4 linked regions of the Homo sapiens genome follow. The protein of the gene in region 1 purifies or fractionates together with the protein of each later gene. This does not show direct contact. Each region holds a gene or a part of one and is shown in the gene's direction. Other genes may lie near its edges.

The links.
Region 2: the proteins of CEP72 (region 1) and AHCYL1 purify together in Homo sapiens (co-immunoprecipitation; 3 studies listed by BioGRID and IntAct, with this or other methods). This does not show direct contact.
Region 3: the proteins of CEP72 (region 1) and TBC1D4 purify together in Homo sapiens (affinity purification with mass spectrometry, with the first as the bait; one large-scale study listed by BioGRID). This does not show direct contact.
Region 4: the proteins of CEP72 (region 1) and CEP295 purify together in Homo sapiens (co-immunoprecipitation; one large-scale study listed by IntAct). This does not show direct contact.

The regions. Positions count from the first base shown.
Region 1 is NC_000005.10:636,340-639,839, forward strand, and holds part of CEP72 (centrosomal protein of 72 kDa), read left to right. Parts: intron 1-1,177; coding exon 1,178-1,479; intron 1,480-2,749; coding exon 2,750-2,885; intron 2,886-3,500. UniProt on the Homo sapiens protein: Involved in the recruitment of key centrosomal proteins to the centrosome.
Region 2 is NC_000001.11:110,019,265-110,022,764, forward strand, and holds part of AHCYL1 (S-adenosylhomocysteine hydrolase-like protein 1), read left to right. Parts: intron 1-283; coding exon 284-362; intron 363-1,466; coding exon 1,467-1,587; intron 1,588-2,409; coding exon 2,410-2,416; coding exon of another isoform or gene 2,417-2,462; 3' UTR 2,463-3,500. UniProt on the Homo sapiens protein: Multifaceted cellular regulator which coordinates several essential cellular functions including regulation of epithelial HCO3(-) and fluid secretion, mRNA processing and DNA replication.
Region 3 is NC_000013.11:75,283,170-75,286,669, reverse strand, and holds the end of TBC1D4 (TBC1 domain family member 4), read left to right. Parts: 3' UTR 1-3,167; downstream 3,168-3,500.
Region 4 is NC_000011.10:93,724,182-93,727,681, forward strand, and holds part of CEP295 (centrosomal protein of 295 kDa), read left to right. Parts: intron 1-72; coding exon 73-194; intron 195-1,469; coding exon 1,470-1,650; intron 1,651-2,794; coding exon 2,795-3,456; intron 3,457-3,500. UniProt on the Homo sapiens protein: Centriole-enriched microtubule-binding protein involved in centriole biogenesis.

The DNA.
Region 1 (3,500 bases):
GTGTGTGTGTGCACACCCTCCCTCACCCTCTCACTAATGCACACACACTTTTAAGTGTATGGGCCCAGGTTATGGCAATAGCTACATTTTGAAAATCAAAGGCGAGAAAAGTTAACCAAGAGTGTCACGTGATACCATGTGATGGCCACCTATGTGGCATAAGTATCAGAAAACCTCCTGCCGTGAGCAGGCCAGACACGGTGGCTCACGCCTATAATCCCAATATTTTGGGAGGCCGAGGCAGGCGGATCATTTGAGGTCAGGAGTTTAAGACCAGCCTGGCCAACATGGTGAAACCAGGTCTCTACTAAATATACAAAAATATCTGGGCATGGTGGCGGGCACCTATAGTCCCAGCTACTCAGGAGGCTGAGGCATGAGAATCGCTTGAACCTGGGAGGTGGAGGTTGCAATGAGCCTAGATGGCATCACTACACTCCAGCCTGGGCAATAGAGCAAGACTCCAACTCAAAAAAAAAAAAAAAAAAGAAAAAGAGAAACCTTGTCTCGCGTGACCCTGGCGCCTCCTGGAAGCTTGCTCATGCCCAACTGGTGAGAGGCAGGGGACCTAGCCAGGTTGTCTGTCAGCCGCTGCAGGATGTGATGGGTCATCTTGAGTTGAGCAGGCTGTGGTGGAGGCCAAGGCTGTGCCCGTTTTGTGCCTTCTCCTGCCTTCATTGTCCTTCCACAGACAAGTTTGCCTTCCCCCGGGTCTTGTGTGTCCTGGGGGCTTAGTGGTCGGTACAGTGCACGGGACCCACCACTTTACGGACCATCAGAGTCTGTCACTTCACCTGTCTTCAGAGATGGGCGTGTGCTTAGACGTTGTTTGGAACGCGTTGTTGAAGCGTACTGCACGTCGGTCATCACGGGGTGAACACGCGAAGCTGGGCGGTCCGTGTCTGCTTCATCCAGACTCCCCCAGAGTTTGCGTGTTAGCACGTGTGCCCCAGTATGCCCCTTTCTTCCCTCGGCACCCTCCCTCTGCATGTGCCTTTGTGCAGGTGTATGGATGTATGTATGCACGTGGATAGGTGTGCGTGTACATATGTAAGTGTGCGTGTGTGTCCATGTGTGTATATACATGGGCACACACATGCCTTTTAAAAGTTACAGTGCTGAACACTGCACCCAGAGAATTTGGCCTGACGTGCGCCCCATCCTCTCTATATCTCAGACTCCATGGATACCGAGGACTCGGCCTCTTCTCAGAAGTTGGATTTGTCAGGAGAAATGGTGCCTGGTCCCCTGCCAGCCCCCGGAAAGTGCAGGAAGCGAAGAATGCCTGTTGGAAGATTCCAGACGTTTTCGGACCAGGAGGGTTTGGGCTGCCCGGAGAGAACTCATGGGTCCTCCGTGCCCAAGGAGAGCCTGAGCAGACAGGACAGCTCAGAAAGCAGGAACGGGAGGACCTTGTCTCAGCCTGAGGCCTCGGAGACTGAGGAGCAGAGGTCTCGGGGTGTGACCGACACCAGAGAGGTGAGAGAAGGGCTGGGGAGCAGCAGGCCCACGGCACTGCCTCCCTAATGTGGGGCTGTTACGGCTTTGGCGGGGCCGTGATTACGCCTGCGGCACTGACTGTGTCCCTCCCTGATGCAGGGCTGTTACGGCGGTGCCGTGATTACGCCTACGGCACTGACCGTGTCCCTCCCTGATGCGGGGCTGTTACGGCTTTGGCGGTGCCGTGATTACGCCTACGGCACTGACCGTGTCCCAGGATAAAGGGAATCATCACACTTAGGGTTCCAGGGTGCTTGCTGCTGCGTTTTGTTGGACGTGTGCCTCTGTGCCACACGCTGTCCTGCGCTGCTGTTCTGAGTGGAAGCCCCGTGGTGGAGAGAGGGGACTCTGCCTTACGGTGCACAGGGCATTTGTCTCCAAAGCTGGAATCGGGCATCTTGGCCGGCTGAGCCATTGATGACCCTTTCGTGAGGGGAGGATCCTGGAGGTCGCTGTGATGAGAGACCGAGTCACTCCACCCTCAGGGTGACCTAGAGGTCAGGGGGACAACTGGCGCAGGCCCAGTCAGAGGCGTTGAGACACACCTGCTGTAGACATGAGTGCAGACCACCCAGAAGGGAACAGGCAGGGGCTGTTCACTTGGTACTTGCCACAACGAGGGCTTCAGACTCCCATGCAGGCAGAGGAGCTTGAAGGTGCGGAACTGTGGGACAGGAAGGGAGGCATGGCCGGAGCTAGAGGCAGCTCCGTAGCAGCATGGGGTGGGGGGGGGTCCCAGAGCTGGGTGGGGCGTGTTTGACGTCCCCGGCAGGTCCTGAGCTGGAAGGAGGCAGAGATGGGGGAGGTGGGCGGTCTGTTTCAGGGTTATTGTTTGACTCCGGGCCATTGCTGGGGACAGCGCCTGGCACCCTCTACCAGCCTGACTGTGGGTGCAGGCTGCTTCCTGGGCAGCTCCTTTTGAACACAGGCTCTGACTGCGGCCTGGATGTGTCTTCCGCTTCCCTGTCTGGGTTGAGGGGAGGAGTCTGGGGCCTGCTTGAGTTGGGAATGTGTGGGCCCCGTCCTGTCCTGTCATCGAGACCTCACTCATCCAGGACCGGTGCACCTGGCTAAGCCTCACTGGGCAGGCACTGCTGAGCCGCCCTCCACCTGGCTCAGGGCTGGGGCCTCAGGGCACCTGTCCTCCCCTTCGTGGTGCGAGGGCATCCCAGGGTGCGCTTGGGCACCTGCTGGCATTCAGGACCTCAGTTACTGACTCGCTGGCCTCATGCTGTTGTTTCCATCACAGCCGTCTCCCGGGTCACACTCGGCTCTACCCGGGAAGAAGACGGCCCTGCAGGCGGCGCTCCTGGAGACGCTCTTGGACCTGGTGGACAGGAGCTGGGGCGGCTGCAGGTCCCTGCACAGCAACGAGGCATTCCTTGGTGAGTCAGGGCGGCCACTGCTCTTGCCCTGTAGGCAGCGTCTGTGTGGGTTCCGGGGTCCTCTGCGTGTGGTGACCTAGGAGTCATCTCAGCCCCAGGTCTCCTATGTCCCCTCCCACGAGCGTGTGGTGGTCCCGCGCCTGGGCCCTCCCTGGCAGTCTTTGCATCTCACAGTGTCCAGGGCTCTCGGGAGACACCACATGGGCCTGGGCCTGTGGGTCCCCCGCTGTGCTCTGGGGTGTTGGGGGGCCTGTCACCTCATTTTGCTCAAAATGCTGTCCAAAGGGGCTTGGTTCTGATGGCTGTGATCACATGGGGATTTGGAGTTTGGAAGCTGCTCAGCATCTTCTCCCCCGACCCAGACGTGTAGCCTGTGCTGGGCCTGGATTGCAGAGCTTTTGGTTGGTGTGGGACCCAGGAGGGTGGTCCCTCCCCAGAGAGGACTTGGGTCTGTTGGATTCTACCAGGCAACCCGTACATGAGCACACTGGGGCCTCCCTCATCCAGGATCACACTGGGAGACCAGGAGATGCCGCGTCCCCAGGGGCACCTTCTCTTTGTCCTGCATCCTGGGGTGTGGCTGTGTGTGTCCCTCAGGAGCCTAGCCAGTGTGCT
Region 2 (3,500 bases), on another chromosome or scaffold:
TAGAAAAGAGTCACTAAGTCAGTATTCGTTGAATTGGCTGTTTTAGTTGAGAATATAATGTTCCAGCTTAGTTTTATTTGATTTGTTCTTTCGTTAGGAACTAAACAAAAACAACAAATCCTCTTAGGATGTGTGCTGCCCTTTAGTATAGGCAAAGTCCTAGGTACTGTGACTGTGGTAGATCACTGTAGTACTTACCCAAATGCTGTTTAACCTGGTTTTATTTTTATGTGCCTGTCTAAGAAATATTTTTGTGCTTTCTGGCCTTCTTTTCCCACCTTAGGCTTTGGCACTGATAGAACTCTATAATGCACCCGAGGGGCGATACAAGCAGGATGTGTACTTGCTTCCTAAGAAAATGGGTGAGTGAAAAACAGTGGAAATCTATGCAGACAGCTGCATAGTTTGGTAAAATGACTGCCATGAAAGGCATTGGATTTAGAGTCAGAGTTCCAATTCCTGTTCCTGTGCTTACTGGTTGTTTGACCTCAGGACAAGTTCTAATCTCTATGATCCTCAGTTTCTTGATTGGTAAAATGAAAATAATACTACATACATTGTAGAATTGTGTGAGAATCACAGCTAATGAGTAACAGTGCTTAACACAATGGTTTAGGGAGATGTTCTTACTCTAAGTAGCCTTATGAAGTTCAGTAAACTTCCCAGTGCAGCTGAGTACATACAGCCTTGGAACAAAATGAGAGAAACAAACACAGGTTTTATTGTCCATTTTCTGTGAGGATATGCAAACCATCCAATCTCTTGTAAGCAACCCATGCTGTGTTCATGTGACATAATACATCATCTCTAGTCCTTTGCCTTTCTGCACGGTGTACCCATCTCCCATATCTCCTTGGCTAGCCCAAATCCCTGACTTCTTAATGCTAAAATACTTCTTGCTCTCCTCTCCTCCAATAGCTTACTTCAGACTTTTTTTTCAGTGTATAATTATAAAAGGGAAGCTTATCTATGGAAAAGTAAAAATTCTGTGCCGACTACCTTAGAAATTCATGATCCTAAGATCCATGGATCTTATCCTAAATGAGTGTTATTGACACAGGGTCTTTCTAGCTTACTGGTGTCCACTTTGATTGCTAATTTGACTATAATCTAGTTAAGGAGGTTGCTGCAGGAAGGTAGGAGTAGCATGTGACATGTGGGCCACTGCAGGGAAGCCCCCTGCTTTGCCAGAGAAGGATAGAGAGGTAAAAGCCCACTCCCTTTTGTTACCCTGGTAAGTGGCTTTTCTGAACGCACTGTACATGTGCTGAGAGAAGCATCCTGCCCAGAAAGGCAGCTTTGAGGTTTTTTTTTTAATTAAGCAAATATTTCAAGTTGTGGATTCTTTCAGAGTTATTCCATCCCTTGTCTGCTTTCTTAAAAAAGCTTCAAATGAAAATGGGAAGTTATAACTTGAGAGACATTTTGAAAAGGAGTCTGCTCTCCTGCCACTTTGCTCTTCCTAGATGAATACGTTGCCAGCTTGCATCTGCCATCATTTGATGCCCACCTTACAGAGCTGACAGATGACCAAGCAAAATATCTGGGACTCAACAAAAATGGGCCATTCAAACCTAATTATTACAGGTAACCTGGGGAGAAGCAAGTGAAAAGCTCTTTTTCCCAGTATTAAACCAAGCAGGCTAGCCTGCTTCTGACATAAAGATCAAATGTTGTACCTGATTTTGAAGAATACAAGAAATCTGTTCCAGGCCAGGCACGGTGGCTCACGCCTGTAATCCCAGCACTTTGAGAGGCCTAGGCGGATGGATCACTTGAGGTCAGGAGTTCAAGACCAGCCTGGCCAACATGGCGAAACCCTATCTCTTAGCCGGGTGTGGTGGCGGGCACCTGTCATCCCAGTTACTCAGGTGGCTGAGGCACGAGAATCACTTGAACCTGGGAGGCGGAGGTTGCAGTGAGCTGGGATCATGCCACTGCACTCCAGCCTGGGTGATGGAGTGAGACTCTGTCTTAAAAACAAACAAACAAACAAAAAAACTGTTCCAGTTAACAAGGTAGATAGAGAAATTGTGGGAGATATCAGGGAGTTAGGGTTTTTTTGAAATTTTGGAGCCTGGGCCTCACCCTAAGAGATTCTGATATATTTGGTCTGCGATGGGACCAAATTTACAAAACATTATTTTGTAAAACCTCCCCAGATTATTGTAATGTTTAGTCAGGGTTGAAAAAACACTGACTCATTCCTGGGAACAGGCGGTAACACCAGAAATGGCATTGTCAGAGACCCTGTGGAAGAATAAGGGAGACTGGTGCCCTGGGGAATGACTGCAGGGATCCCACCCAGGCTGGGGAGGGGCCCTGGAGAAGGTGCTCTGTTTCCGATTGTTTTTTGGAATTCTCATATGGAAGACATAAGTGTTAACCAATCACTCTCTCTCTTTACAGATACTAATGGACCATACTACCAAGGACCAGTCCACCTGAACCACACACTCTAAAGAAATATTTTTTAAGATAACTTTTATTTTCTTCTTACTCCTTTCCTCTTGATTTTTTTCCTATAATTTCATTCTTGTTTTTTCATCTCATTATCCAAGTTCTGCAGACCACACAGGAACTTGCTTCATGGCTCTTTAGATGAAATAGAAGTTCAGGGTTCCTCACTCTAGTCACTAAAGAAGGATTTTACTCTCCCAGCCCAGAAAGGTGATTCTTTCTTTACCATTTCTGGGGACTTTAGTCTTAATTAGGTACCTTATTAACAGGAAATGCTAAGGTACCTTCTCTGTGGAACAATCTGCAATGTCTAAATCGCCTTAAAAGAGCCCATTTCTTAGCTGCTGAAATCAGTGCTCTTTCACTTCTTCAGAGAAGCAGGGATGGTACCTACCCGGCAGGTAGGTTAGATGTGGGTGGTGCATGTTAATTTCCCTTAGAAGTTCCAAGCCCTGTTTCCTGCGTAAAGGTGGTATGTCCAGTTCAGAGATGTGTATAATGAGCATGGCTTGTTAAGATCAGGAGGCCCACTTGGATTTATAGTATAGCCCTTCCTCCACTCCCACCAGACTTGCTCATTTTTCGAGTTTTTAACTAGACTACACTCTATTGAGTTTAATTTTGTCCTCTAGGATTTATTTCTGTTGTCCAAAAAAAAAAAAAAAGAAAAGAAAAATTAAGGAGAATTTTTGGTGTTAATGCTGAGGAATTGCTTGAGTGGTTAGTTGTTACCAATTTCTCTTTTGAACCTTTGGAGCTAAGGATGCTGAGTCTAGAGAAATGCTAGTCTCAAGCCCTGTTAAGTCCCTCTGTTTCTAGCCCGTAGTTCATAGCATCAGTGAACTGGAGCCACAACAGCAAATTCTATCAGCTGTGTACCATACAGCTTGTGCTGAAGGCGAATTTCTTGAGCCATTACTCAGTATAAAGCACTGAGTTCTATCTTTAGGATTTATCTTTAAGAGCAAATTTCTGGTCAGCTGTGCTTCTGCAACCTAAAATATTTAAAGGGAGGTAGGTGTGGGCAGGAGGAGGAATGA
Region 3 (3,500 bases), on another chromosome or scaffold:
CGCCTAGTCACAGCAGGTGGACCTCGTGCTCATCAGAGCATGCCAATCCTAAGCCATTGGACATATGTAGACTGGTTTTTGTTGTTGCTATGTACATATAAATATATATATAAAATGAACATAGTTCATGCTTTCAGATAAAATGAGTAGATGTATATTTAGATTAATTTTTTTAGTCAGAACTTCATGAAATCCACACCAAAGGAAAGGTAAACTGAAATTTCCCTTGGACATATGTGAAATCTTTTTGTCTTTATAGTGAAACAAAGCCAGAGCATCTTTGTATATTGCAATATACTTGAAAAAAATGAATGTATTTTTTTCTCCAAAGAACAGCATGTTTCACTCAATGGTGAAAAGGTGGAAACATTTATGTAACTTTATGTGTATCTGTCTTGATATCTACTGACATTGTCTATATGAGGAAAATGATTACTGGTCATGCTCCTGTGAGTTTTTTGGGAAGGTAGGGTCATTTCTCCCTGCCTGCTTTGTGCCAACTAGCATGTTGCATCTACATGCATTATGAGTCTGGTTAGGCATTACTTTAAACATACATAAAGAGACAGTAGGACATTGTGGCTGAGTCTACCCAGCTCAAGGTAAAGGAGAATGTTGCTAATTTTTTAGCAAACTAGACCAGCATTATTACTCAAACTAAAAATATCACACCTGAAAAATTTAATTTAGGACCTAAAATGTCTAGATTAGCTTTCTGCTTTTTTTATTTGAATAACTCATTCAGTTGTGAATGAATTCCTCTTTATTTGGTGCCACAGTCACCAAATGACAAGGATTTGCCACTTTCCCACCAAATTGTGAGTGCTTGTAATTTAGGTCTCTCTACCTTAAATTCAGTATAAGGAAACGTAATTATGATTGATTTTTTCCAAAGATGACAAGCTGTGTTGAAATACATTTTTTCTTTTGACCAATTGACAGAATCTAATAAGCTTTAATAATCTTCCCCTTTTATGTGAAAAGTTTTGAGAACTGTGAAATGTTTAGGAACAAACTGTTGAAATCCATTGGAAGGGAAAAAAGAAAGTGGTACCAGTGTTACCAGCTCAACTAAAACCTGCAATTCTGCATTTCAACTCTTCACTTCCTCAGCCTACAAATAGCTCATTAGATGACATTCACGCATGCTGGGTATAGGCAAGGAAAGTAATTTTCAAAGTACATTTGCAGTTCTCTTTTTCAGAGATGATTCTATGATAGTGCCTCTGAAAGTTGATGCAGCATTTTTGCCTTTCCAAAAAGTATTTATCCTCACTGCTTTTTGCAGTACTTGTATTTTCACAGATGGATTATCTGGGGTAATTTTCTTCAAAGGGAGTTTGTTATACACAGTGAAAATGTATTATAGAGTAGAATAGTAAAGCTCTAGGGGTTTCAGAAAGCTTTGATGAACAGATGACAAACATCTGAAACCCCCTCCGCACTGTTACCCAGTGTGTATATAATGACTTGTTATAGCTCAGTGTGCCCTTGAATCCATACAGTTTCTTAAAAGACAATAAAATCTTATTAATAAAGTTAATGTAACTTCTAAGTTCTAGAAAATGCTGATTCTGTCTGCCCCATTCAATTGGGGGCTACTAATTGATTTGTTGCTTGGATTTCCTGAGAATTTCTCTATTTGTAGGAGGGGTTTTTTCTTTTTACGGTCTGTTGATGACAATTACTTTATGGGTGTGATGCACCGATGGTAGCCAAGGAATCTGTTGGGGAAGTTCGGAAAGAAACCTTTTCTTTCTTTTATTCAGTTTAAAGTAAACTTTATCCTGGATGTTTAGAATCAACATTAAGAGTTATATTATGGTGTTCAGAGATTAAGCTGACTTGGATACAATATTTTCTTTTGAAAATGAATTTTCTTTTTCATTTGTGATTTTTAAAAAATGTTGCACCAGTTATGCTTCATGCATCGTTACATCTTCATCAGGTTAATGTAATGTCTAGTTCCTTTGCAATAAATATATTGCTGCAGCTTTCTTGACGTATACTGTTACTTTTCGGGAGAGAAGCAGCTCTTGGTTAGAGTCTTTTACTGCAGGGGTCCCTGGGTACCTGTCTGTGGCCTGTTATGAACCAGGCTGCACAGCAGTGGTGGGCATGCGAGCAAGCATGACTGCCTGAGCTCTGACTCCTGTCAGATCAGCCACGGCATTAGATTCTCATAGGAGCGCAAACCCTATTGTGAACTGTGCATGCAGGAGATCTATGTTTTGTGTTCCTTAAGAGAATCGAATGCCTGATGATCTGTCACTGTCTCCCATCATCCCCAGATGGGATCGTCTAGTTGCAGGAAAACAGTCAGGGTTCCCACTAATTCTACATTATGGTGAGTATATAATAATAATATGGTGAGGATATAATAATAATAATAGAAATAAAGTGCACAATAAATGTGCTTGAATCATTGAATCATCCTGAAACCATCCCCTGCCACCAGTCTGTGGAAAGATTGTCTTCCATGAAACCAGTCCCTGGTGTCAAGAAGGTTGAAGACCGCTGCTTTACAAGATCTGCATGGTGAAACCCCATCTCTAGGGAAAATACAAAAATTAGCCAGGCGTGGTGGTGTGCATCTGTAATCTCAGCTACTCAGGAGAGTAGGAGAGGCATATATTGCTACTTATAGGAGGCTGGAGAATAGTTTGAACCTGGGAGGCGGAGCTTGCAGTGAGCTTGCAGTGAGCCATCATGCCACTGCACTCTAGCCTGGGCCACAGAGTGAGACTTTGACAAAAAAAAAGAAAAACAAACAACCAAACAAAAAAGATCTGCATGGTTTGGATTGTACCTACTTAAAATTGCTACACAAATAATTCTTCCTAATAGAGTCAGACAACAAAGATAATTTAGGAGACATTTATGTAAGTACATTGTTACCATTTTTCAACTTACTTTCTCAATGGAGACTTTTGAAAGAAAAATATAAGCAACCACATTGACAGATTTGCATTCTACCCTTTTATTTTCCAGGCCCCCTCATAGATAGCAAGGGAGAGAGAGCCACAAGAAAATACAAAATTTTCCAACTGGACGCAGATAATTAAGAATTAAGGACATTTACTGATGGATGTGATATGAATGTTTTTATATAAAATATGCATCTCTTGGAGTATTCTCATGTATATTTGTAATCCAATAAAAATACACTGTATCTTCTTGCTAACTTTAGGACTAACACTTTTAACTATTTTTTGCTTAATGTAGTAGTTAAGCATTTTGAGAAGGAGGCACTGTAGGCTTAATAGTACAGTCTCTTAATATCCATGTTGACTTTTACCCATTTTGTCACTATTTCACCAATTATTTTTTCACAGTACCAGATTAGGAGTAAGAAATCTACCATCTGATGGCATGAAGTATTTAGTCCTTCTACCATGATGTGACACTCTCATTATATTACTCATTAGCTGTGATATAATGAGAAAAGCACGGGATTTAGGGTGAGAAGTTTTATATCTGTGTCTTGGTTCCACCACTTT
Region 4 (3,500 bases), on another chromosome or scaffold:
AGTGTTTACCTTAAAAATAAATTTATGATTTTTTTCCCTCAAAAATTCTAACAGTTGACCTTGACTTTCCAGAATTGGAACACATTTTTCCTAATTTGCATCATCAGCTGTTTAAACCCTTAGAACCACATCCAGATTTTGACTTATCATCATCATCCTCTGGGATTTCTCCAGACAACAGAGACTTTTACCAGGTATATTAAAGTAGATGTCCCATTGCAGTGAATATCTAAAAATAGTTTTAAGCCATTTCTTCTACTGGAACAAAAGTTCTTCTAAACCCTTACCTAGAATCACATGGAAGTCTGGGCACAGTGGCTCACACCTGTAATCCCAGCACTTTGAGAGCCCAAGGCGGGCAGATTACTTGAGGCCAAGAGTTCGAGACCAGCCTGGCCAACATGGCAAAACCCTGTCTCTACTGAAAATACAAAAATTAGCCAGGTGTCGTGGTGCGCACCTGTAGTCCCAGCTACTCGGGAGGCTGAGGTGGGAGGACCACTTGAGCCCAGGAGGTGGAGGCTGCAGTGAGCTGAGATCGTGCCACTACACTCCAGTCTGGGTGACAGAGCCAGACCCTGTCTTTAAAAAAAGAAACAAACAAACAAACAAAAAGAATCACATGGAAAACTTAAATAAAAAATAAAAATAAATCCTATTGTCCAGACTACACCCTAGACCAATTAAAGCAGAGTTTCTGGGAGTGCTCAGATAGTACTAATTATTATTATTATTTTTTAAGCTCCCCAAGTGATTCTAATGTGGAACCAACTTTGAAAACAGCTGCATTGGGCCGGGTGCGGTGGCTCATGCCTGTAATCCCAGCACTTTGGGAGTCTGAGGCAGGTGGATTGCTTGAGGCCAGGAGTTTGAGATCAGCCTGGCCAACATGGTGAAATCCCATCTCTACTAAAAAACACAAAAATTAGTTGGGTGTGATGGCATGCCTGTAGTCCCAGCTACTCGGGAGGCTGAGAACCGCTTGAACCTGGGAGGCAGAGGTTGCAGTGAGCCGAGATCGTGCCACTGCACTCCAGCCTGGACAACATAGTGAGACCCCATCTCAAAAAAAAAAAAAGGAAAACAGCTACATTAGAATTTTGTTTGTCCCATCCACCTGTCTCCACCTAGGGAGTATGATGCCATAAAAGGCTTAATAACAACTTTTAGTTGTGGAACATATTTAAACAGTAAAGTAAATACAATTTTGCAAAATTTAAAGTATCCTCCTACACAGTCAAAGGAGCTGAGATTTAAACCTGAGTCTTTTTGCTTCCACTTCCTGATGGCCTGACATTTTAAAGTCTCTTTCATATTGATTGAAAAGAACTGGATTTGAAAAAGCAAATCATTGCTGTCATAGTGAAGTGATAATTAAGGAAGAGTAATACCAAAGGAACACAATGATTATTGTTTCAATTGTTAATACCTAATCAGTATTTCAGCCTTTCCCTTTTGTTTCCTGCCAGAGATCAGATTCTTCATCTGAAAGCCACTGTGCTACTGGATTATCCAAAAGTACAGTTTATTTCACAGCACTGAGGAGGACCAGCATGCATTCTTCTCTTAACACAAGTCCGAATCAACAACCTGACACTAACTTGGCTCATGTTGGAGCTCACAGTTTTGCTACAGAAAATATTATTGGGGGTATGTATGACTAAGTTAGAAAAAGTTAATTTTTCCATGATTTTTTACATCCATTTCCTTAGAAATTAAGCCTAGCACCTCTTGGTTTGTCTTCACCCCTGCTCTCACCCCTATCCTGGGTGTTAAAAAATATTTAAATTACAGAAGTAATACATGCATTTTTTTAAACAATACTGAACATTATGAAATAAAAGGAAAAGTGTTGCCTCTTGTTCCTCAATTTCCCTACCTCAATCATTATGTGATAGTTAACAGTTTAAGTATTATTTTTTTGTTTGTTTTTTTTGTTTTTGTTTTTGTTTTTATTTTGTTTTTGAAGACTGAGTTTCACTCTTGTTGCCCAGGCTGGAGTGCAGTGGTGCAATCTTGGCTCACTGCAACCTCCGCCTGCTGGGTTCAAGTGATTCTCCTGCCTCACTCAGCCTCCCAAGTAGCTGGGATTACAGGCATGTGCCACCACACCCAGCTAATTTTCTATTTTTAGTATAGACAGGGTTTCACTATGTTGGTCAGGCTGGTCTAGAACTCCCGACCTCAGATGATCCACTCGTCTTGGCCTCCCAAAGTGCTGGGATTACAGGTGTGAGCCACCATGCCCAGCCAGTTTAAGTATTCTTCTTAGGCCAAGTATAGTGGCTCACGCCTGTAATCCTAGCACTTTGGGAAGCTGCGGCAGGAGGATCCCTGGAGCCCAGGAGTTCAAGACCAGCCTGGGCAACATAGAAAACAAGTATTCTTGAGCCTTTGGTACAAATGATTATATATACACACAAACATACATGAGATACACAAGGATGTACAAATTATATATACACACATGGATAATTGAGATACACATGGATGCTTTATTCTCTTTTCTGTTATTAAAGTCATATTCAGTTCTTATAGAGGAAAACATCCTCAGTTTATAGCCATATTGTCCTTATTAAATATTAATAGAAAAAGAAAAAATACTTGGTGTGAGCTGTAGTTTGAGAAATCACTGTGACCATCCTTATCTTTGTATTCATGTTTATACACATCAACTTTTATGCCTAAAATTGTAGGTTACTTGCAATTGGATGATAAACTATTAGAGACTGTCAGTATCCAACTTTTACAACATGTAACGATGATTAACTGATTTTTGAATTTCTTAATGCAGGATCTGAACAATGTTTTGAACAGCTTCAGCCAGAATATTCTTCACAGGAGGAGAGCCAGCATGCTGATCTACCAAGTATTTTTAGCATTGAAGCAAGAGATTCTTCCCAAGGCATGAAAAATCAGAACTATCCCTCTGAAGAACATACTGAAATATTACAAAACAAGAAAAAAATTGTTCATTTCCAGCTTTCTATAGGAAACTTAAGTTCAGTCTACAGTTCATCTGATGAAGCTAATGTATTTGATCAGTTAAATGTACAGCATAGCACTCCATGTGGTTCTAACTCTAGTGAGTGCTCAACAAAACACCAACTAGAAAGCAGAAAGGAAAGTATGGGCTTTGAAGAACTATCAAAAAGAGGGGTTGTTACAATGTTACAAAGTCAAGGACTCATTGAAGATAATAAAAATGAAACCTGTAGGGTTTTAGACATAAATCCACAGGTAGAGGAAACTGACTCTCGATTATGTGTAAGAACAGTGGAGATGGGAACTTCAATTCAGGCACCATATTCCTTAACTACTCAAAATGAAAAATATTTTGAGAATTCAGCTGAAACAGACATTCCAAAAATCACCAAAAAACTATCTCAACTAGGAGAATCAGAGCTTTTTGCAAGTTCTGGATCATTTTCATTACAGAGCTCTATACCAGTCTGGGTAAGTGAAATCAGTGTTGTATAAATAACATTTAAATTCCTTTT